2 separate regions of the Homo sapiens genome follow, and region 1 is linked to region 2. The links come from fine-mapping of genetic effects on gene expression. A gene starts in region 2. The other region holds a variant in brackets. All regions are shown on one strand. Distances are from middle to middle.

What was found. PIP is the estimated chance that this variant, and not a neighbour inherited with it, causes the effect.
Region 1: its variant is fine-mapped to the expression of TTC32 in whole blood (TOPMed, PIP above 0.99).

The regions. Positions count from the first base shown.
Region 1 is chr2:20,157,134-20,169,612 of GRCh38, forward strand. No RefSeq gene overlaps it. Among named protein-coding and RNA genes, the nearest start is that of SDC1, 62 kb to the right of the region's middle. RefSeq lists a silencer at 437-526 and enhancers at 7,106-7,606, 9,079-9,158. The variant G/C (reference allele first, on the strand shown) is at 5,103.
Region 2 is chr2:19,896,203-19,908,681 of GRCh38, forward strand. TTC32 (tetratricopeptide repeat domain 32) reads right to left here and starts at 5,781. Exons shown (of 3, transcript NM_001008237.3): 1 at 5,504-5,781; 2 at 1,667-1,833; 3 at 429-924. The coding sequence starts at 5,652. The coding sequence ends at 785. RefSeq lists enhancers at 4,742-5,623, 4,874-5,063, 5,204-5,263, 5,344-5,443, 5,624-6,504 and 1 more.

The sequences.
Region 1 (12,479 bases), 260 kb after region 2:
AATATGGGAAATACTGGAGCATGTTTGTGTACTGACAAGAATGACAGAGTAGGGAGGGGGAATCTAATGATGCAGGAGAGAGAGGATAATTGCAGGAGCAAAGTCCTCAGCAAGGTGATAGCAGGTGAAGGGATTGTCCTTTGAAAGGAGCAGGAGGGAGGCTGAGAGGTTGGCAGGGTGAGGGAAAATTGTTGTTGGCACATATTCAAGGAGGATTGGCGATTTCATCGTGGGAGGCACAGTTGTCCCTGGCTGAGGGCTTCTGGGTTTTTTTGGTTGAAGTGTTAAGAAAGGTCATCAGCTGGATGTGACGTGGGGAGAGGATGTGGGGGATGGGAAGAGCGAGAATGTACGAAATAATCATTTTAGACAGAGAAAAGAAACTTAGTAGAGAAACATTTTAGAATTACCCGGCTGTGTTGCATGACCATTTGAGGTTTGTGGTTATGCATATAAAATGAAAATTACCTCCAGAAGTTGTGTGTGTGTGTGTGTGCTTACATTAATGGTGTCTATCATTCTCTGTGTATTATTTAGCAACTTGCTTTGTGTCTTTCCTGTGTGCTGTACGTTCAGTATTCCACAGAATGGATGCACCAGAGTTTATTCAGCCATTCCCCAGTGATGACAGCTAGGTCATTTCCAGTTCTTTACTAGAAAGCTGCAGCAAGGATTCTTTGCCTGCTGCCTCGTGCACACATGACTGTTTCTCCAGAGGTACACCAAGAAGTAGATTTGCTGGATCATAAGGGAAATAGAAGTTTTAATAGATTCTATCAAATTGCCCTCCAAAGTGACTTTACCAATTGATACTCCCATCAGCAGAATATGAGACTACTGCCCACATCTTCATCTGCCCTACATTCAATCAAACTTACTATTTTGCTTGTCTGGTCGAATAAAAAATGTTTTTTCATTATTTTAATTTACATTTCCTTTATTATCAGGGATATTGCAGCTTCCCATAGATTTTTGGCCATTTGAATCTCTCCTCTTGTGATTTTTCCTTTCATATTCTTTTCCTGTTTTCCTAAGCATTGTTTACTTTTTCATATTGACTTATAGCAGATTTTTACATATTTTGAATGTTGTTTGTATATTGTAATTATTACAATTTTTTTAGTTGGTTGCTAGTTTTCAATTTTGTTGATGGTGTCTTTTTTTTTTTTTAAGAGACAGAGTCTCACTCTGTCACCCAGGCTGGAGTACAGTAGTGCAATCACAGCTTACTGTAGTCTCAAACTCCTGGGCTCAAGTGATCCTCCCGCTTCAGCCTCTCAAGTAGCTGAAACCACACATATGCACCACTACACCTGGCTTTTTTTTTTTGTGGAGACAGGGTCTCACTCTATTGACCAGGCTGGTCTCCAACTCCTGGACTCAAGCAATCCTCCCCTCTCAGCTTCCTAAAGTGCTGGGATTACAGGTGTGAACCACTGCACTGGGTCATGTTGATGGTACTCTTTGATGTCGTTAAATTTATTCATATCTTCCTTAATGCTTTTATATTAAGTGCCTTATTGCACAAGCTTTCCCTATCACTAATTCATAAAAATAATATCCTATATTTTCTTCTAATTCTTTTGTAGTTTTTTAAATTAAAGTCTTAATTTTGAGATAATTGTAGCTTCACATGCAGTTGTAAGAAGTAATACAGGAAGATCCATGTTCCCTTAATCCGGTTTCCCCCAATGGTAACATCTTGGAATATCACAACTAGGACACTGATATTGGACTCGACGTTGATACAGTCAAGATACAGAATGATTTCCCCACCACAAAGAGCCCTTGTGTTGCCCTTTTAGAACCACACCCACTTCTCTTTCCCCCACTCCTTTGTCCACTGCCATCCCCTCTTTAACTCTGGCAACCACTAGTCTGCTCTCCATTTCTATAATTTTGTCATTTCAAGAATGTTATATAAATAGAATCAACTGTATGGGACCTTTTGAGATTGACTTTTTTTCAGCCAACATAATGCCCTGAAGATTCATTCAGGTGGTTTTGTGTATCGATAGCTTCTTCCCTTTTATTGCTGAGAAGTAATCCATGGTGTGCTTGCACTCCATTTGCTTAACCATTCATTCATTGAAGGATATCTGGGTTGTTTCCAGTTTGCAGATATTTTTGTACAAGTTTTTGTGTGAACATAAGTTTTCATATCCCTGGGATAAACATTGAAAAGTACAATTGTTAAGACTTGTGATAGTTGCACACCTAGTTTTTTAAGAAACTTCCAAATGATTTTCCAGTGGCTATGCCATTTTACATTCCCATCTGCGAAGTATAAGTGATCCAATTTCTTCATATCCTGGTCAGCATTTGATGTTGTCACTATTTTTTATTTTAGCCATTTTGATAGATGTGTGTTGATATCTCATGTGGTTGTCTTGGCACTTTCCTAATGGCTAAGGATGTTGACCATCTTTTCATGTGCTTATAACCAGGAGTACCAGGAGTACACTCTCTTTGGCTAAATGTCTGTTCATGTCTTTTGCCCATTTTTGAATTCGATTCTTTGTTTTTTATTGTTCAGTTTTGAGAGAAATGTATGTATTCTAGGCTCTAGTCCTCTGTGTTTTGCAAATATCTTCTCCCAATCTTTAGATTGTCTTTTTATTCTCTGTACAGGGTCTTTCACAAAGCAAAAGTTTTCAGTTTTGATGAAGCCCAATTTATTGATGTTTCCTTTTATGGATAATACTTTTGGTGTCAAGGCTGAGAACTCTGTCTAGCCCAAAACCACAAAAATGTTTCTCCCATGTATTTTCTTCCTAAAAGTTTTGTAGTTTTAGGTTTCACATTTATGTTTGTGATTCATTTTGAGTTAATTTTTTTATACAGCCTGGAGTCTAGGTCAAGGTTCACTTTTACCTATGGATGTTCAGTGGTTCCAGGACCATTTGTTTACAAGGCTATCCTTCATCCATTGGATTGCGTTTGCATCTTTTTCAAAACTCGGTTGCGCATATCTGTGTAGGTCTATTTCTGGATTTTCCATCCTTTCCCATTGATTTATGCTTCCATCCCTCCACCAATATCACACAGTCCTAATTATCATAGCTATATAACATCTTGGAATTGGGTAGACTAATTCCCACTTAGTTCTTCTTTTTCAAAAAAAGTATGTGTATATATTATTTACTTCATATGCTTTATCACAAAACCACAAAAACAATCTCCTACATTTTATCCTAATTCTTTTGCAGTTTAAAAAGATATATTTAGTTCTTTAAGTAACCTGGAATTTATTATTATGACTGGTGTGAAGTAGAAATTAAACTTGACTTTCATTTTCTGCAGTTGTTTCTCCTAAAATATTTAATTGAATGTTTTGTCACTCATCTGAAATACCAACTGTATCATACACTAAGTTTCTACATATTCGAGGGTCTGTTTGTGCACTCACTATCCTATTACTTTGGTCTATTTGTCTATTTAATCCTATATTATTTTTAATTCTCTAACTTCATAATATGTTTTGTTAAAGTAAATTAAAATGGAGACCAGACCTGAAGAATCCCTACACAGACAAAGGCAGTTAGGATAAGTGACCTTAACCTTGTTTGATTTGTAAACATGAGTGAAACTTAACCTGGGCCATTTCTTATAAATACTTTTTTTTTTTTGAGACAGGGTCTTGCTCTGTTGCCCAGGCTGGAGTATAGTAGTGCCATCTTGGCTCACTGCAGCCTCGATCTCATGGGTTCAAGCAATCATCCTGCCTCAGCCTCCTGAAGTGCTGGGATTACAGGTGTGAGCCACTATACCTGGCCCCAAATGCCTATGTCAAAGAAAAATAGAATTTAAGCTCAACTAATCGGAAGCAGCCAACAAACTTATATAACTGGGAACAGTTTCCAACAGGATAAGCCAAAGAAGGCAAGTGTATAACTACAACCAATCAAATTTTTTTTGCTTTACTTCCCTTTTCATCCTATAAAAGCCTCCCTCTTGTAGTCCCTCAGTGAAGCTTCCCAACCACTTCTGGTTTGGAACCCAATTCATAAATCTCTGTCTACTCAAATAAACTTATTAACATTTTGTTGTGCCTCAATTTACCTTTTTAATACTTTTTTTTTTGACAGAATCTTGCTCTGTCACCCAGGCTGGAGTGCATGGCGGCATCTCGGGTCACTGCAGCCTCCACCTTCTGGGTTTAAGTGATCCTTGTACCTCAGCCTCCTGAGTAGCTGGGATTACAGGTGCACACCACCATGCCCGGCTAATTTTTTGTATTTCTTGTAGAGACAGGGTTTTGCTATGTTGGCCAGGCTGGTCTCAAACTCCTGGCCTCAAGTGATCTGCCCACCTCGGCCTCCCAAAGTGCTGGGATTACAGGTGGGGGCCACCATGCCTGGCCACATTTTTAATAGTTTTGATATCTGGCAGGATAAGTTCCCCTTTACTGTTCTTCCTTTTCAAAAGTCTTTTCTTATGCATTTTTTCCATGTGAATATTAATCATCATCTGTCTATTTTAATGAAGAATTCCAGTGAGATGGTTGTTGGGATTGCGCCAAATTTATAGATAATTTTATAAGGGATATTTTTATAATATTGAAATTTCCCAATGTAGTAGAATATATATCTCCCTTTATTTAGGTCTTTTATGTCCATCATTAAGTTTTACTGTTTTCTTTGTAAGTTTCTTGCATTTCTTTTTAGGACTGGTACTAAATATTTTGTGAATTTTAATTGTGCTGTACAGAGGATTTTGTTAACATATAATATCAAGTTGGTCACTATCATATAGGAACACAGCCTTTCACATAGCTGTTCACATGAGATACTCAGGAACCTTCTGTGGTAAGCAATGTTTGAACTGTCTTGTGGAAGAAGAGACTGAAGCTCAGAGAAGGAAGCCTGGGGCCAAATGCGGGTCCCCCAGGTCCAAGTGCCAGGCACAGAAAGCTTCCACTCCAGGGAAGGCTCTCGAATGTGCAGACAGTGGAGCTGCAGGGTCTCCCTTTGGCTTACAGAGTGTGGACCCAGCAGACAGTTCCTGGCCTCCCAGCGAGGCTCCAAGAAGACCTAACTACAGCCCCATTTCCCCGCTGCTTCATCTTTGTCTGTCACAGGCAAGGTCTGCCTTTCTCTTCA[G/C]GGGGACAAGTGCCTGGCTCTGTGACCAAGGCAGAGCCCAACTTGGTAAATGGATGCTATGGTCATTAAAAGATTAGAGGGTCATTAAACTATGGGTTTGGTGATGGGGGTCAGGTGGCTGAGCATTCCCTGAGGACAAGGTGAGAGATTAGTATGGAGGAGACTGGTTAGAACCAAATTCCTGGCTTGGGCAGCAAAGGGGTTCAGGAATGAAGGAGACCAGCCCTCAGGTTCCAGGGTGAATAATGACACCCTCTACAGGGAGGCAGGCCAGAGAGCAGGAATTGAGGGGTCGGGCCAGTGGTTTGGGAGGCACATGAGGTGGGGTGCGGAGTGGGATGGTCTGGGAGCCTGAGGAGCAAGAGAGCTGTAGATCACATCTGTGGGTTAGAAGTGAGCTAGGGGAGTTTATCATGTGTGTGATCCTTGGCTTCTCTGTTTATTTCCTTGCTTATCTCACTCAGGATTCATCATGGTGTCAGTAAAAGACCTAGCCTGTGTGAGGAGGCCAAGCGAGGCAGGATGGGTACCCTGGGGCCAGCATCTTGCAGAGGTGTCAGTGGGAAGCAGGATGAGGGAGTTCCTCAGAAAGAAGGAGACTCACGGCTGGAATCCCACCTACTCTTCTTTGCCTGAAATACTCATTTCGGTTGCACCATGCAGATTCAGGGTTTGGTACTAATGAAGATTATTTAGCTTCTTAGCTTTGTGATCATAGCTATTTTCCCAACTGCAAAATAGGGATAATAATTCTACCAAGTTCCCCAAATTGTAGAATGCTCATCACTGGAGATTTGGGGTGGTATGATAGATTATTTTATATAGTACATGGCCATACCTTTAAACAATGATAAATAACATAGTGAGAAATACATCCCTTTTTTCTTTTCCCCCAAATTTGCCTGATGACATAAGGAGAAAGTCTCCTCCTCAGAATGCCTCAGCCTCAAAAAGGGCATCCGAAAGGCAATACAATGATAACATCGTACTGAATTTTGCAGATATTCATGACAAGTGATAATGAATATAAAACTTCCTTTAAAGGTAAGTGGGTTTGGGTTGGGCGCGGTGGCTCATGCCTGTAATCCCAGCACTTTGGGAGGCCAAGGCAGGCAGATCACTTGAGATCAGGAGTTGGAGACCAGCCTGGCCAATGTGGTGAAACCTTGTCTATACTAAAAATACAAAAATTAGCTGGGCGTGGTGGTACGTGCCTGTAATCCCAGCTACTCGGGAGGCTGAGGCACAAGAATTGCTTGAACCCAGGAGGCGGAGGTGCAGTGAGCCAACGTTGCACCACTGCACTCCAGCCTGGGTAACGGAGCGAGACTCCGTCTAAAAAAAGTTAGCGGATTTAAGCTTATCTAAAGGTAACTGATATAAAAGAAAATTGATTTAAAGAAAAGAAATAAGAAATTGTACAGGTGGTGTGCAAAAGACAAGGCAGAAATCTTACATGTGGTAAGCAAAGGATCCAAGTTTGGGGTTCAGGGTAGTGGTGTGGGGAGGTGTAAATGGAAATAACACACTCAAAGGCTCAGCCCAGTACCTGGAACATAGAAAGGGCTCTCTCAATGATGCATGACAATAACTGTCGTTCCCTTTAAGTGAAGCTTGCCAGATTCAGCAAATAAAATCAGTGCACTCCCAGTTTAATTTGAATTTCAGACAAACAATAGGATTTTTTAAGTATAAGTATGTCCCATGCAATATTGGGAACATATTCATCCTAAAAAAGTATTTATTATTTAATTAAAATTTAAATGGAACTGAGTGACCTGTGTTTTATCAGGCAACCCTACTTCTCATGCCTTCCCTGGAATGCGGGAGAATTGGACGTGGCTTAGAGACCCTGGGATGTCACCCGGGATGCCTATCCCCCACCAGAGACTTGGGCAGAAGATGGTCAGGGGATGTGAAAGTTCCCGAGGAGGCCAGAGCATGCTGAGGGCAGCCTCCAGCCGGGACATTAGACACCCCTGCCCTCCCCACAACCCTGGCTCTGCCACTTGACTCTCCAGTTTCCTGTGTCCTGTCTTCCACCTGGCTGTGATGGGGAGGGGACCAGAGTGGCCCGGGAGTGAAGTGTATTACAGACAGACAGACAGGAGCTAGGAACACTCAGGAATTCGCTACGTGATGTTGAAGGCTTTCCACAGGGACCTGGGCCCAGAGACACTCAGTGGAAGAGGTTTTACAAATATCAGGCTGAACCTGGCCCTCCTCTTCACCTCCCTCCCCATCTGCACTGAGCCAGCCAAGGAAACCTCTTCCATCCATAGAAGGGCGGGAGCTTGGCCAGCAAAGGGGACTCAGGCTTTGTCACTTTTCCTTTCATTACCCTCCCTGGCCATGCTGAGCAGGGGTCCTCTGCCAGGCCACAGCGGCAGATGTCCTGGTCCTTCTCAAGGAGCCATCCCTACATACTCACACACACCACACTCACAGCACACACACCACAGACACACCACACTCACCACACATTCGCACCACACACACCACACGCACAGCACACACACCACAGACACACCACACTCACCACACATTTGCACCACACACACCACACTCACAGCACACACACCACAGACACACCACACCACACTCACCACACACCCCACATACACCACATTCACACCACACACAACCACATATACACCACACACACCACACACCACACATACACACCACACACAGCACACTCACACCACACACATCACACTCACAACACACCACACTCAACACACACACCATGCTCACCACACACTCACACCACACACACTCACAACACACACACCACACTCACCACACACACCACACATACACACCACACACACCACACTCACAACACACACACCACACTCACCACACTCACCACACATACCACACTCACACCACACACATACCACATACCACACTCACCCCACACACATACCACATACCACACTCACCACACACACATCACACTCACCACACACTCCCACCACACACACACCACATTCACAACACACACTCATACCATACTCACAACATTGACATCACGCACACAGCACACTCACCACACACTTGCACCATAAACACACCAGACTCACAACACAACACACACCACACAACACACACCACACTTACCACAAACAACACATACTCATACTATACTCACAACACACACTGACACCATACACATACCACACTCACCACACACACCACACTCACAACACACGACACATGAAACAACACACACCCACACCACAGACATGCCACACAACACACAACACACTCATATCACACTCAGTACACACAACTCACACCATACCACACTCACAACACACAACACACACTCATTCTATACTCAACATATACTGACACCACACACATACTATACTCACACACTCACATCACATACACACCACACACAACACACTCACATCACACACTCATCACACACAATACACACAACACACAATACACACTCACACGACACACCACATATATATACCACAGTCACCACACTCGCACCACACACAAACTCAAACACACATCACACACACTGCACATTCATACCACACTCACACAAAACACACAGCACACTCAAACCATACCCACACCACACACACCACACTCAATACACGCACCACATTCATACCACACTCACAACACACAACACACTCATACCACACTCACAACACACAACACACACACCACACTCATACCACACTCACAACACACAACACACTCATACCTCCCTTACAAGATGGATTCACAACACACACTCACAACACACCACATACAACACAGACACTACACACACCCACACTCACCACACACAACACACTCATAACACACACACCATACACATACACAGCATACACATACACACGTGTATCCACGTTCACACCACACACACCACACAAGCATACACACACACACCACACCACATACACACATATACTACACCCCACATACCCACACCATATACACACACCACATGCACATACAACACACACACACCACACATATGCACCACATATATATATACACACTCACAAAACACACACACACACACATTGTTAGCTGCAGCAAAGCGTGACTGACCCCTTCCACTTGCTAACTCAGCTCTTTGCAGGGGATGGGGATCTTCAGCCCAAGACTTCAAGCAATGCTCCCTGTCTCTGAGCTGAGAGGCCAAGCAGGAGGATGTGGTCATAACTGCACCCACCTGTGTACTCAGCTCCCCTCCCCCGCCCCAGGCCGCTGTGTCTCTGTGCTCTACCGTAGAACCCACTTAAACTCTCCCCATCTCCTGGGGGCTGACCCTGCCTGCCAAGGACATCGTGAGGGAGCAGGGTTTAAATGAGATGCACTCTCATTTAAATTAAACAGCAGGAGCCTGTCACAATCTCAAGGGAGAAAGACCTCAAAAATTTGTGGATGCTCATGTCTGGAAAAGGGCGACTGTGGTTCATACCAAACTGAGAAGAAAGAGATTCATGAGCCCAGCCTGCCCCACGGCATTGATCAGCCCCGTTACTCACATCCACAGAGCAGGGTGACACAGCCACTGCCTAATGCTTACTCATGCACTGCCTTCTAGCCTGGGTGTCTGGTGTGTGTGTGTGTGTCCTTCCTGGATAAACTGAAATCCCTCTACAGCAGAGAGACCTCTCCTTCCTCAGTGGCCTCATGGAGATACAATAGGTGTGTAATAATTACTGCCTGTCCTGCTCAGAGCTTCTGAGCATTCCAACGTGTGTGTGTGTGTGTGTGTGTGTGTGTGTGTGTGTGTGTACAAGGAAGTCTAGCTCCCATATCTGCTCTTAATGGTGTTACAATTTTTTTTTGAGACAGAGTCTTGCTTTGTCACCCAGGCTGGATGCAGTGGTGTAATCATAACTCATTACAGCCCCATACTCCTAGGCTCAAGCAATGCTCCATCTCAGCCTCACAAGCAACTGGGACTACAGGCATGCGCCACCACACCTGGCCAGCGTTACTACCACTGCACACCTTCCTCTCCGTCCTCCAGTCACATACAGAGAGCCCTGAAGTAACCACAGACAGTGGTCATGTCTCCCAGCCCATTGGAAGCCTCGGTAGAAGGAGGTCCCCTGTGGCTCCTCTCACCCCCTTGTCCCCAGATGTCCCCACAGGGACCCATTCTTGAGATGGGGAGCAAGCCTTCCCCTCAGGCCTCCCTCTGTATCCAGGCATGGCCACTCAGGCCTTCTGCTCCTCTTCTTCAGGCCCTGCCTTGGCTGTTATGTCCTATCCATCCTCTCTCTGACTGTGCCCAGAGAACGAGGGAGTCTGACTTCAGATTTTACAGACAGAAGATATCCCAGGAATGTGTCCATCACATCGCCAAGCCAGCCCCTGTCAGTACAAGGCCAGCGTGGAATGAAGCTGAGTCTCTCTCTCTTCACCTGGAGTCCAGTGCTCATCCATGGCCATCGCTGTGTGCCAAGGATGTAGGGGTTGGCCAGGCCCAGAAAAGGGGATGTGGGCAGTGTGGGAAGAAAGAAAAAAAGCCCTCCAAATACCGGAAGATGGGCACAGTGAGCTCCACGAGCCAGCCACAGCTCACCTTGCCATCTTTACCTTTCCCATCTTGGTGGGTAGGGTGGGGGTGCCCTGAGCACTGCACAGGACGGAGGGTGCTTCAGGGCCACCGCAGCTGTGACCAGCATTTGGCTGAGAGATAAACCCTCCCCAGCCAAGAATGCCACCCCTGGAACCTCCCCTCCCTAAAAGCTTAGTGGCAATTCTAGCAACTCGGGGGTCAGGCAGTGCTGGACTGGGGCGAACTAACAAAGCCTCCTCCGTGGGAGCCATTTCCCCTAATACCCCCTTGAACAAAGGCCTGAGATAGCTGTCCGCCGGTCCACACACCTGTGGAACACCACCCTCCTTGCTCTCATGTTTTCTCTCGTACTCAAAGGCCCCAGAGAGAAGCCCCATTCAGGCAGCTCAGCCTGCACCTCTGCTGCAGGGCGCTGGGCCACACCTGCCGCCCCATGATGTGGTCCTTTCTCCAGAGCACGGGGCTTCAGGGTCCTCCCTGCATGGCATGGACAGTTCTGAGGGATGGCTGTGACACGCAGCACGAGGCCACCCTGCTTCCCATCGGGGAGCTCTGACATCAGGGGCCAAGACATCTTTTTGAGATGAGTGGGGGGCACGGAAGAGACGTCTGGATGTTAGAGTCATGGTCTCCAAAGTGGGGACTGACCCAGCTGCTGGGCCTCCCTCCAGCAGCCCAGCCCTGGGTGGACAGGCTGCTTTTATGATGATAGTTAACTTTTTATAGATATTCCTCCTGCAGCAAGTTAAATTGCATCTGCTCGGGCAGACATCCAGGCCAAGGGCAGGCAGATGGAGCGGCCGGGCCCCGAGGCTCTGGCGGGCAGGTCTTCCTGCTGTAAAGCTCTGTGTCTGATAGGAAATTCAGGCTGGAGTGTGGGCACAGGGCAGCTTGGGTTGCTTCCTGAGGGTCTAAGAGCCCCAGACGAGTCGTCCTTTTCTTCTGCAGCCTCTTCATGTGGCTCTGAGTTCTGCACCTGGGCAAACTTCCTTGTGGGAGAAGTCATGAGTGGGTAGAACGTGCAGTCAGCGCTGTAGGACCAGCCAGGGAGGGGCCTCAGCCAGTCAGCTGTGATGGGGCAGGGGATCGGAGCCTCGCCCGGTTGGTGGGCAGGGATCTGGCCCTGAGGAGCAGGGCCCCGGGAGTGGGACCCTCATCCCACAGGACCGGCAGCACTGGGCAAGTTATTGCTACAGGGATTTGGCCATGGCATATGGGGTACAAACCAAAACAGGGACCACCCCCAAACTCAGCCTGAGTCGACAGCACTGCCCTCTAGGCCTCCACTCCCCACAGGGAGAAGGGCTCCCACACTGGTCCCTCTGACGCCTGCAGAGTCACTTTCGATGGGGCCACTTCGCCTCCCAGCCAGCCCGCCCTTGGTCCAGGGCATTAGCGACTCGGCGAGATGCACTGAGTTTGACTTTCAACACACATTTATTGGACACCTAACTCCCTATAGGCTGTGTGTTAAGTTCTGGGGCTTCAAACTGTGCTGAATACAGCCCCTTCCCTGGAGGAGTGCCTGGACTGTGAGGGAGTGAGAGCAGTAAATAGTCGGGGTGATTGCGCGAGGATAACAGAATGCACAGAGCGAGGCTGCGGTCTGAAGAGAGGCCAGGCTGCAGGGCCTGCTGGGACTGGGACCACTGCTATCCCAGCCCAGCCTCGGCCCACTGCTCCCAGTTCCTCCTCACGCTCCCCACCTCTTCCTGGGACGCCTGTCATGACCAATAGCCAACAGGAAAAAGAACACCTCCCTATCTGGTCTTCCCCCACAGGGACTGGTTCTTGTCCAGGGA
Region 2 (12,479 bases):
TTTCAAATTGTAGGACATGTTTATTTTTAAGCCTAAATGTTATGTCTCTCTAGCCTAGCTATATAAAATAGCCTTTCTCTCAAAGCCAATGCTAGGGCAAGAAAATGGACAGGGGACTAGATTAAAAGAACTGAGAGAAACATAAAAAAAAAAAATGCAATTGAAACCTGATTGGCTCTAGATCCAAATAAAAATCTACACACTTTGGAATATGGGCTGGATATGGCTGACATTACAGAATTATTCATTTTATTAGGTATTATAATGGTATTGTGGTTATAAAGGAGGATGTCCTCAATCTTAGAAAATGTAGGCTGAAATATTTAGGGGCGAAGTACTGTGACCTCGTCACCTTATTTTCAAATGTTTCAGCAAAAAGTTATATATTTAAATAGAAAAAGCAAATGTGGCACAATATTAACAACTCATGAATTTAACTGAAGAGTTTATTATACTTTCAACTTTTCTGCAGATGTAACATTTTTTAAATAAAAAGTTGAGAATAAAAAAATCACAAAAATAGTTTTGCTGAAGAAAATACCACACATTCCTTTTTACTATAATATTTAATATAATAATATACACTTATACATTGGTATTATTTACACTTCATTAAAAAAAACCCATTCAACCTGAAATTAACTACCTTAAACACACTATTTAACTTTCAGTGCTAATGTATTAATTTCTTAAATATAAATCAAAATAGCTCAATATCTAAATTACTGATAACTAGATGCAGATGTAAGGATCATGAATCAATACTTCCATTAAGTTAAAAATATCAATAATTTTTTGCAACATTTCTTCTTTGTTTTTCTTCTTTGTCTAGAATAGTCTGTTTTAAGCTCAAAGTAGCATCTTGAAATCCAGGATTTAAGTCTAAGACCTTCTTGAAATCTTCCAAAGCATCATCAAAATATCCTGTACCAGAACCCAAAAAATGGAAAAGAGAAAAGAAACCGAGTATTTCTATATATTATTCATGGAAAAGCTTTGATACATGTACTTTTGCTTTTATATTTATGAGCTTTCAGTCACTTCTAGTAAAGGAATCTTTTTATCTTAATAATATAGAGATGTGTATATCAAAGTAATTTTGTGTGCCCTTAGGGAATAATACACCTAAAATTAGCTATGGGTTTATTTATTGAGATTTAACAGGTAAATATTATCAATCATCTTAAAATTTTAATAAAACTGTATCACCTGTTTTACATAATTGCAGTAAAATTAAGAAACGGGAACTAATTTTCTTTTTGACACTTTAAATGAAGAAACACTACCTATGGTCCCTTTAATCCAAGAATCTAAACTTCACTTTCTATTGTCTTGTGTGTCTTCAAAGATTTTAACTCAGAAAAGTTTCACAGGTGAACATCTGAATTGCCCTCATTTCACAGCTGGGAATGCACAAGCACAAAGTAATGGGGTCACCCCTGCTCCTGCGCCCAGGTCCAATTCCCACCCCAGTGCTCTGCTGTGATCTATAACGCCTATCAAAAGCCTAAAATAAACTCAGGGACACTTCCTTTGTTCCAAGCTCTAAACCTAAATTTCACAGAACTTTAAAATTTGATTACCACGTTAGTTTTACAACATTTGAAAGCTCTGAAATAACAGAATACAGTCAATGACAAAACTCAAAAAGAAAAAAAATTCTTACCCAGCCTATACAGTATCAACCCTCTGTTGTAATATGGAACTTCAAAATTGGGTTGGACTTCTATGGCAGATGTGTAGTCATCCATGGCTTCATAAAAATCAACCCTGAAGTACTTGATTTGCCCCCTGTTGTTATATGCAGTAGCCAAATCCTCAGGGCTGCATTTGCTTTAAACAAAAAGTTCACATTAAAAACACCGTGTTACCAAATTCCTCTCATTTCCACTTTCATTCTCTTTTGGGTATTGTCAAACTTCACAGCCTATAACATGCAGCATCAACACTGAAAATCCAAGCTGAAGAAAAAACGTACAAATAAAGAGCTAAAATCAATTTTTGTTTAACCCTGTTATCTACTTTTGTAGGGTTATACCACTGCAATGTCAACCTGAAAAGCATACTAACTTTACAGTGTGTTCACTGCCAATTTGTTCTGCTGAATATAACATTAAAATGATTGTTCATTTTTCTAAGCACACACCAGCAGGGCAAAGAAGACAGAACAGATAAATACTAAGCAAAGAGGGAAAGCCAGCCCAAAGCCCGAGTTTGCTATGGATATGTCACAATGTGAATCAATTTCATTCTCAAATTTTTAAGTGATCTTAAAACAATAAGATTTGAAATCATTTTCCACCAATAAAAAACTAAAGTTAACGCTAAGTGAAAATTCAACATGCTACGATCCCCAGGAAGTTATCTCTGGGGACAGAGTTGCCCTCCCTCCAGCCTCAGCTGGCATCCTCCCCAATGCCAGGCTGGCTTCCTGCTAGGAGGGTGGGCTCCTTTAGACCCCCTCAGGGCTCCAGTCAATTTTGATGTCCTTTGTGCAGAACTGGCTCTGCACCTGAGGGAACTAGAGGTTGCCCAAAGAGCTTTAAATTAGCAGCCATTCCTGGGCTGTACAGCCAGGTAGCTCTGACCAGCCACCAGCTCAACAGGTCACAGCCCCTGGCTGCCTTGAACCTTTCTCTGCACAGGACAAATAGTCTGCACAGAGAACATTAGTGCCTCTGCTCTGAGTCAGGGATGATTCTGTTTCCCTTTCTTTTTTCCCAAAGCAATTCTCAAATTAGAACCAAACAGAGAATTCATCTGTCACTTCTTTGTAATACCCCGTAGTAAAAAGTATAGTCCTCCGAAAGTATCTGTGAAGGCAGTTAGTGTAAATAAAAGCTACTTCTCTTAATATCTTGATCCTTGAGATTTCAGACAGGGACTGTAACTACTGCTACCCTAAGAGGCACTCACAGCCCAAGGGCCTCCTTCAAACCAAGTTTGCTAACGATGGAGAGGAACTGTCGCAATTTTAGAAAACGTCTATTCTATGAGCTGTGATGGAGACTGGATGTAGGGATACTTCTGGATGCCACTAAGCACCCCCGTTAAAACCTAGATTACAAGACGGTACCACTCCCCTTCACCTATGTGTGACATGACACTAGTTGAACTGCTCCCAGTAGAGAGTTTAAAGAAAAAAGCAATCTCAGGATGCCAGTAAGGTTTTAGTCATTAAATCGAAGTTTCAAAATTATTGTTATAAGTTTTTAATACTAATTATATATTCGTAATATAGAGAATCATAAAATGTTAGACTTAGAATTAGATCTCATTAAATCAAATTCTAAAATCGTTTTCATGTGGAAATTTTGTTTCATATTTTAAAGAAATGGACTAACAGTTGAAGCCGAAATTTTCTGTAATATTAAAATTTTTGTAATGATAGTATTTATTATAATGGAATTCATTCAAGTTACCTAACCCAAATGTGAATTTTTAGGATTTGCTAACTTTCGCAAAAAAAAATATTTTTTATATATATATAAAGTGTGTGTATATATATTTTTTATATATAAAGTGTGTGTATATATATACACACACACTTTGGAAATTAGGTTTATGACTAAAGCTATACTTTAGATATTAAAAGAAAACGTCACAAACCATTCAGAATGAAAGGCATTCAAAAATTGCAAATATTGTTTCAAAATGATTTAGTGACCCAATACTTAGAAAATAAATGTAAGCTCCAAAAGATAAATTGAAGGGAAAAAGTTGAAATGACAGAATTCAGTTTCAATCCTTGAGTTCCTAGAATTTTATCAAAAGCTTATTTTACAGATGAAAAACTGAGGCTGAGACATTAGCCATGTGGCAGTGCCAAGACTGGAATTCAGGCATGATGAACTCCCTTCTACTGCGCTATGACAAACTGTCTTTCCTGTGCTGGTAAGGCATAGCTATTATATATGCTACAGACACTTGTGTTCTTAGGCTGAGAGGTGCAAAGAAGGAAGAATAACAAGACTAGACAGCAACAGCATACCTGATGCTGATAAATACTTTTTAAAATCTACTAGGTAAGTCTACTCTTAGAGCTTGAAACATGAATAGTTTCGCTTTCTATGTTTACTTATCTTTTTTATGGGGGAGGTGCACTGAGGAAAGTAGATGGTATCATCTTATTGCCTGTTCAGAAACTTCTATTATTATTCTTGTGTGTTATTGAAATGAGAAGGCAATTTTCTTTCTGGTTTAATTCCATGTAGCGTAACAAACAGGGTAAGAATCAAGTCCTTAGTGTTTAGTTAAGCCTCATACAAAAGACAAGCTGGCATCCTGTCCAGAAAACTCAAATCCACAACAGACAACTCACAACTATTCAAAAAGCTGTTCAACCAACCCCTCTGTTCTTTTCTCATCCTGATCCACTCCATACCATCAACAAGCCCAGTCGAGGCAAGACTTGGAGTAAAAACAAATGCTACACATCCAGGCACAAGCCGAAAAGATGCTTTGGGCAAGCAGACAGTAACAGGTGAAGCCGCTCACATCACAAAGAGAAAGTCAGCGAATCGTTATGTGCTTCCTGGTGAAAGTACACACACCCACCTAAAAAGTATTCTTGCCATGATATTGAATCTGAATTCAATTGGATCAAACCTCAAGGTTTAACCACCAATTCACAGCAATATGAGACAGATGACCACATTAAACGACAGAAGAGATTCAGTCAGCAAGTCCAAAACACGGAAATTCAAAGGACACAAGAATCGGTTTCCTCAACAAATAAAGAGGGGAAGGTGGAGAAGAGACTTAAAAAGACTTGATGTGTATCCTGACTTGAACTAACTGCGAAAAGGGAACCAAAGAACAAAACACCTTATTAGTCGATCAGAATGGTTCCAACACTGACGACTTGATATTAAGTAACTATGTGATGATGACATGGTGGTTCCTTCTGAAACATCCATGGATGAATACAATAGGTAAACTGATAATGCTTAAGCCAAGTGATAAACACCTAGACGTTCGTTATGCTCTCTTCCACATATTTAAACGTTTTTCACAAGTGAAAAACACCACCAAGAGCCTGCGCCGTGACACTGAGATGGGAGTCGCGGTACTGTGGCCCTACGCAGCCGTGACCCCTTCCCTTCCCAGGTCGCGGATTTCCCGCCAGCTAAAATCACGAGTGGAAAATTCCTATCTGTCCTAAGTCTCTGGGTGCGAATGAGGAACGTGGAAGGAGAGACGGCGGGGTGAGAGGCGGCGGCCCGCGCCCGAGGATCGCGCAGAGGGCTTGGTTCCCGGAAATCTCTCCGCACCGTCGCGGCAGCTGGCTCCTCACGGGTGGGCTTCTCCCCGCGTTCTCCGCCGCCCTCGTCCTAGGCCTCGCCTAGGCCTTTCTAGAAAGACGAACGTCCGCCCGCTCAGTCCTAGTGCTGGGTTATGACAAGCGCCGACCGTGAGCTCCAGAGGCAAAGATAGGAGCCCAAACAACCCCAACGTCGCCTCCACCCGGGGTCGCCGCGGCCCCAGGTCTCGCGATAGTTACCTCCCGGGACTCTCGTCGCTGGAGGCCGCGCAAGCGCACCGGCGAATGTAAGCGGAGTACAGTGCCTCGGCCTCCGCGTACTCTCCATTGTTGAAATGAGCCTGGGCGAGTGTTAGGGTTGCGTGGCTTTCTTGCCGCTGTCCTTCCATAGCAGCCAAGGCCTAGTTTTCGGTGTAGAATGGGGGTTGACCTCCGAGCGGTTAGAGGTGGCACCACAAAGCCACTTCCACACCCTGGAATCTACCTTGACAGCCAACCTTGGCGCTAGGTTTGTGCCTTATGGGGATCCGTCGTCTCGCGAGATAACGGTTCCGCTGCTGGCGGGGCGTTTGCAGTGGCCCTTGTGAACTATGTTTCTGCCGTTACCAGTGTTGGACCCGCCTTCCTCTTTTCCTAGAAAAGGCGCAGATGCGTGGTCGCAAACTGATTTCCAAGTCCGTTGTCTGATGCTGCGAGACACTATCCGTTTGTTACAGCGAATTGGGGGCCGATGACGCTGGAGGTGGAAGAAGCCGCGGTTCTGTTTCTTAATGGCGAATTAGCCTGCGGACGTCCTGTCATTCCCTTGCCTTTTAGCGTCCCAACTTAGCAAAACTCCGCGTTTAGGGTGTTCTGAGTAGGCTTTGTCTACCCTGAAACGCTTTGTGTCGACATTCCACCAGGTCTGTTCCACGGTCCAAACTTCTCTACCTTTTTTGACCCTCTAGAATTGTGTTACGATTAGTAGTATATTGTGTCGAGAGTCTGGGATCTTTGATGTTAGTTATATTCCCTGGCTGTTTATGCCAAAGGGAAATCCAAATAGTAATTTATTACGTACATTACGTATAATTCAAATTAAAATTTTGTAAGAACAGTTGCCAACCACGCTACCCTACATGCCTGCTGTGTATCTTCTCGGCGTCCCTCGATTCTGTTTTGCTTCCCAAAGTACTTGAGCCCTTTCCGTCATAAAAAGTAAAGATGAAAAATATATTTGGAGCATGATACTTACATGCGGAAGTCTTAACAGGACATAAATTGTGTGCTTTTGGCTGCTTTCATTAGATTTTTAATTTTTTCCTTTTACCACCACTGAAAAAAATACAAATACAGTGGATTAAGGTTAAATTAAAAAGCACTAGTAGAAATTAAAAGATTGCAAGACTACAAAAAAATAAACTGGCATTTCTGGTGTAAGCAAATGGACAGCTCAATAGAACAAAAGCCCAGAAACATACCTCAAATAGGCTGTATTTTGTAAAAGACATGTAACATATATGGGGAAAGGACAGATTATTCAAATGAGTGCTATTGGGAGGATTAGTTAACCATTTGGGGAAAAATACATTTAAGCATTTAAGCTCCCAATTGACATAATATTCATTCCAGGTGAATTAAAAGATTAAATAAATAAGATAAAAAGCTTTTTTTTTTCAGTTCCCATTTATTTTTGCCTCTTGGAGCAATGTCATCTTTTCAATATGAAAAAAACAAAACAAAAAACAAATCTGAAGTACAGGATAGAACAAAACCAAGTGTGTTGGGGGAAGCAACAGCAAAGGGAAGACAAGATGTTGCAAAAAAAAAAATGGAGGGGGGATTCCCCTCTCCTCTGGGGAATGACTCAAACACTGATGTGGCAGCGTACACTATTCTACATAAAGCCAGGGATGTTAATCCTTTTGGGGGATAAGAAAAAGTGGAGATGGCCAGGCTCTGTGGCTCATGCCTGTAATCCCAGCACTTTGGGAGGCCTAGGCGGGCAGATCACCTGAGGACAGGAGTTTGATAACAGCCTGGCCAACATGGCAAAACCCCGTCTCTACTAAAAATGCAAAAAATTAGCTGGGCGTGGTGGCGGGTGCCTGTAATCCCAGCTACTCATGAGGCTGAGGCACAAGAATCCCTTCTGGGTGGAAGTGGTTGGCAGTGAGCTAATTTTTGTATTTTTTGTGGTGATGGGTTTCCCCATGTTGTCCAGGCTGATCTCCAACTCCTGGGTTCAAGACATCTGCCCACCTCAGCCTCCCAAAGTGCTAGGACTACAGGCATGAGCCACCGCACCTGACTAGAAGTTTTGCTTTGTTCTGTTCAAGGAATAACAGGAATATTTATGTGTCTAAAAACCAGTGATCTAAGAGGAAAATAGCAGGATATGTAATGGAAATTGGGGATTTGGGAAGGGGGTTTCTAAATAGGAGTAAGATTCTTAACCTTTTTTGTGCTATGGCACCTTTACAAGTGTGGTGAAGCCTATGTCGTTTCAATGTTTTCAAGTGTTTTTAAAACATAGGATTACAAAGGAAAGGAATTATATTAAAAAACAGTTGGAATATTAACAGATTTATTAAAAAGTAAAACATTTATTAACATTAAATATCAAGAACAAATGGCAAACACAAAACTAGCAGAGGAAGAAAATAATAAAAGATCAAAACACAGATAAAACAAAAATGGAATCAACAAAACCAAAAGTTGGTTCTTAAAAAGATTAAAAAAGTTAATAAAACTTGAGCTAAATTGACTACGAAAAAGGAAAAGACTCAGATTACTAAAATCAGAAATGAAAATGGGAACATTACCATCAATTCTACAGAAATAAAGAGGATTATAAGAGAGTACTATGAACAATTGTATGCTGAAAAATGGGAGTAACTACATGAAATGAGCAAATGCCTAGAAACAAAAAACCTACGAAGATTGTATCATGAAGAAATAGAAAATATGAATAGACGTGTGTATTAGTCTGTTCTCACACTGCTAATAAAGACGTACCCAAGACTGGGTAATTTTTTTGTTTTTAAGAAAAAAGAGGTTTAATGGACTCACAGTTCCACGTGGATGGGGAGGCCTTATAATCATGGCAGAAGGCAAACAGCACGTCTTACATGGCAGCAGGCAAGAGAGAATGAGAGAACAGTGAAGGGGGAAATCCCTTATAAAACCATAAGATTTTGTGAGACTTAGTCACTACCATGAGAACAGTATGGGGGAAACTGCCCCCATGATTCAGTTTTTTCTCCCACCGGCTCCCTCCCACAACATGTGGGAATTATGGGAGCTACAATTCAAGATGAGATTTGGGTGAGGACACACACAAACCATATCAACCTGTAACTTGTAAGGAGATTCAATCAGTAATCTAAAAATAACCTCTTGACAAAGAAAAGCCCTGGACCTGATGGCTTCACTGATGAATTCTACTAAATGTTTAAGGAAGAACCAACACCAGTCCTTCTTAAGATTCCATTTAAAAAATGGTTATAACTAATGAATTCAGCAAGGTAGGAGGATATGAAATCAACATGCAAAAATCAGTTGCATTTTTATTCACTAACAATGAAGCTATCCAAAAATGAAATTAAGAAAACAATTCCAGCCAGGCACAGTGGCTCACACCTGTAATCCCAACATTTTTGGAGGCCAAGGTGGATGGATCACTTGAGGTCAGGAGTTCGAGACCAGCCTGGCCAACATGGCAAAACCCTGTATCTACGAAAAATACAAAATTTAGCCAGGTGTGGTGGCAGGCACCTGTAATCCCAGTTACTCAGGGGGTGAGGCAGGAGACTCACTTGAACCTGGGAAGTGGAGGTTGCAGGGAGCCAAGATTGTGCCTTGCACCACTGCACTCCAGCCTGGGCAACAGAGCAAGACTCTGTCTCAAAAAAAAAAAAAAGAAAGAAAAGAAAACAATTCCATCTACAGTAACATCAAAAAGAAAAAAATATTTAGGAATTAATCAAGAAAGTAAAAGATGTGTACAATTAAAACTATAAAACATTGCTAAAAGAAATTGAAGAAGACATAAATGGAAAGACATCTCATGTACATGGATTAGAAGACTTAATATTGTTTAGATGTTAATATTATATAAATCAATCTTCAGATTCTATGGAATCCTTATCAAAATCCCAATGATGTTTCTGCAGAAATAGAAAACTCCATCCTCAAATTCATATGGAATTACAAGGACTCCCAAATAGCCAAAACAATTTTGGAAAAAGAACAAAGTTTAAGGACTCACTTCCTGATTTCAAAACTTACTGCAAAGCTGCATTACCCAAAACAAGTGTGTTATTGGCATAAAGACAGTTTTTTAAACAAATGGTGCTAGGAAAATTGGATATCCACTACAAAAGAATGAAGCTGGTCTCTTACACCATATACAAAAATTAAAATAGATCATGACCTAAATATAAGAACTAAAATTACAAACTCTTAGGAAAAAACATATGGCAAAAGCTTAACAACACTGAATTTGGCAATGATTTTGTGAATATGACATCAATGGCACAGGCAACAAAAGAAAAAACTACACAAATTGGGCTTGACAAGAATTTAAAAACCTTTGTGCATGAAAAGACACTATCAGAGTAAAAAACAGAATATTTACAAGTCATGTATCTGATAAGGGATTAATACCCACACTATATAAAGAACTTCCAAAAACAACAATAAAGCAAAACAATCCAATGCAGAAATGGGCAAAGGATTTGAATAGACTTTTCTCTAAAGAAGATACACATATGGCCAATGAGAACATGAAAAAATGCTCAACGTCACTAATAATTAGGGAAATGCAAATTGAAACTACAATCAAATACCACTTCTCACCACTCCAGTAGGATGGAAACTATTAAGAAGAAATAAGTGTTGGTGAGGATGTGAAGAAACTGGAATCTTTATGCACTATTGGTGAGAATGTAAAATGGTGCAACCACATGGTGTGACAATTCTTCAAATACTAAGAATAACCATTTGATTCAGCAATTCCACTTCTAAGTATATACCCAAAATATCTGACAGCATGGTCTTAAAGAGATATTTACACATCCAGGTTCATAGCGGTATTGTTCACACTAGGTAAAATGTGGAAGCAATCCAAGTGTCTATCAACAGATGAGTGGATAAGCGAAATATGGTATACTCATACAATGGAATATTATTCAGTCTTAAAAAGAACAAATTCTGCCACGTGCTACAACATGGATGAAACTTGAGGACATTACATGAAGTGAATTAAGCCAGCCACAAAAAGACTGAATGATTCTATTTTTATGAGGTACCCAGAGTAGTCAAATTCATAGAGACAGAAAGTAGAATGTGGTTGCCAGGGACAGCTTTAAGGGGGATAGGGAGTTATTGTTCAATGAGCATACAGTTTCAGTTTTGCAAGATAAAGAATTCTGAAGATGGATGGTGGTGGTGGTGGTGGTGGTGGTGGTGGTGGTGGTGGTGGTGGTGGTGGAATATGAACAATATGAATGTACTTAATAAATATAGTTAATGCCACTTTAACTGTACACTTAAAAATGATTAAGATAGGCAAGGTGCAGGATCTCATGCCTGTAATGCCAGCACTTTGGGAAGCTGAGGTGGGAGGATTACTGTGCTAAGGAGTTTGAGGCTGCAGTGAGCTATGATTGTGCCACTGCACTCCAGCCTGGGTGACAGAGCTAGACCACGTCTTGTAAAAAATTTAAAAAAAATTTAAAAATGATTAAGATAGTAAATTTTGTGCTATGTCTATTTCATCACATAAAAAATATGGAAAAATCAAGTGGCAAGTGTGTTTTCTGTAAAAAGATCGTTGCAACAACATTGCATTGAAGTCATTATTACTGTATTTCTATTGATTTTGTTGCATCCACTGCAGTTTCTGCTTTATAAAGGTGGTTGCTACGAGCATAGATATTAGGTGTTATATCTATGTCTACAGATACTCTTACATGTTACATTGTCACTGTGAATAGCAGTTTTTAGCATTATCAAGTATTCTTGCTTGTAGTACTTAACTCACCACATCAACAAATTGAAGAAAAATCTCAACAGATGTAGAAAATGCAGTTAATAAAATTCAACTCCTTAGCAAACTAGGACAAGAAGACATACTTATTAAAACCTACCGACAAAATGTCTACAGAAAATATAATAAGCAATGATTTCTTAAAATATTGAAAAATTTCCTTTGAGATTAAGAATAAGACAAGAATGCCCAGTATCATCACTTTAATTATTCAGCATTGTATTGGGTATCCTAGCCAGTGCAATAAGATGATAAAAAGAAATGAAAGACATGACAATTGAGAAGTATTTTTTTTAAAAAAAGCAGTCATTAAACATGGTTATATAGTTGTATATGTAGAAAAGAAGTGCAAAGGACTGAGAGTGACAAAACATTTTTGAAGAAGAAAAACAAAGGAGGACTTGTACCAGATAGCAGGACCTATTTTAAAAACTATAATAACTGAGACATTCTGCTTTGGGCCAAAGAAAGACAAACAGATCAATGGAACAGAAAAAGAAATCAGAAATTGTTACCTACATATATGGACTTGATTTTTTTCCCATATAATTGCACATCAGTGTGGAAAGGGTGGACTTCAATCAGCTGGAGGTATCATTGACATTAATTTCTTTTAACTTTAGAGAAATCTCTTAGGAGCTGATATCTCTCAGCATAAAGACATAATACAGCAATTTATTCAGTCTCACCTCAGTTTCTTTTTCTTCTGTTAAATTCAACTAAAATAGAAATCTCTTATTAAAAAAATAAAACTACCAATGTTAAATGGGCAATTTGATGAGTTTTAACAAATGTGGAGTCATGTAATCATCACCAAAACCAAGATATGGAACATTTCTATCATCCCACAATGCTCCTTTGTATACCTTTGAAGTCAATCACCTACCCTTCTCCCTGATCTCAGGCACTACTTTCTATGATTTTGTCTTTTCTGGAATTTCATATAAATAACATCATACAGTATGCTGTCTTCTATATCTGGCTTCTTGCACGTAGCACAATGCTTTTAAGATTCATCTATGTTGTTACTTGTGTCAGTTCATTCCTTTTTATTGCTGAGTAGTATTTCATTGTGTGGATAGTCCACAATTTGTTTATACATTCACATATTAATGGATATTTGGTTTCTTTCCAGTTTCTGTCTACTATAAATAAAACTTACGTACATTTGCATTCAAGTCTTCC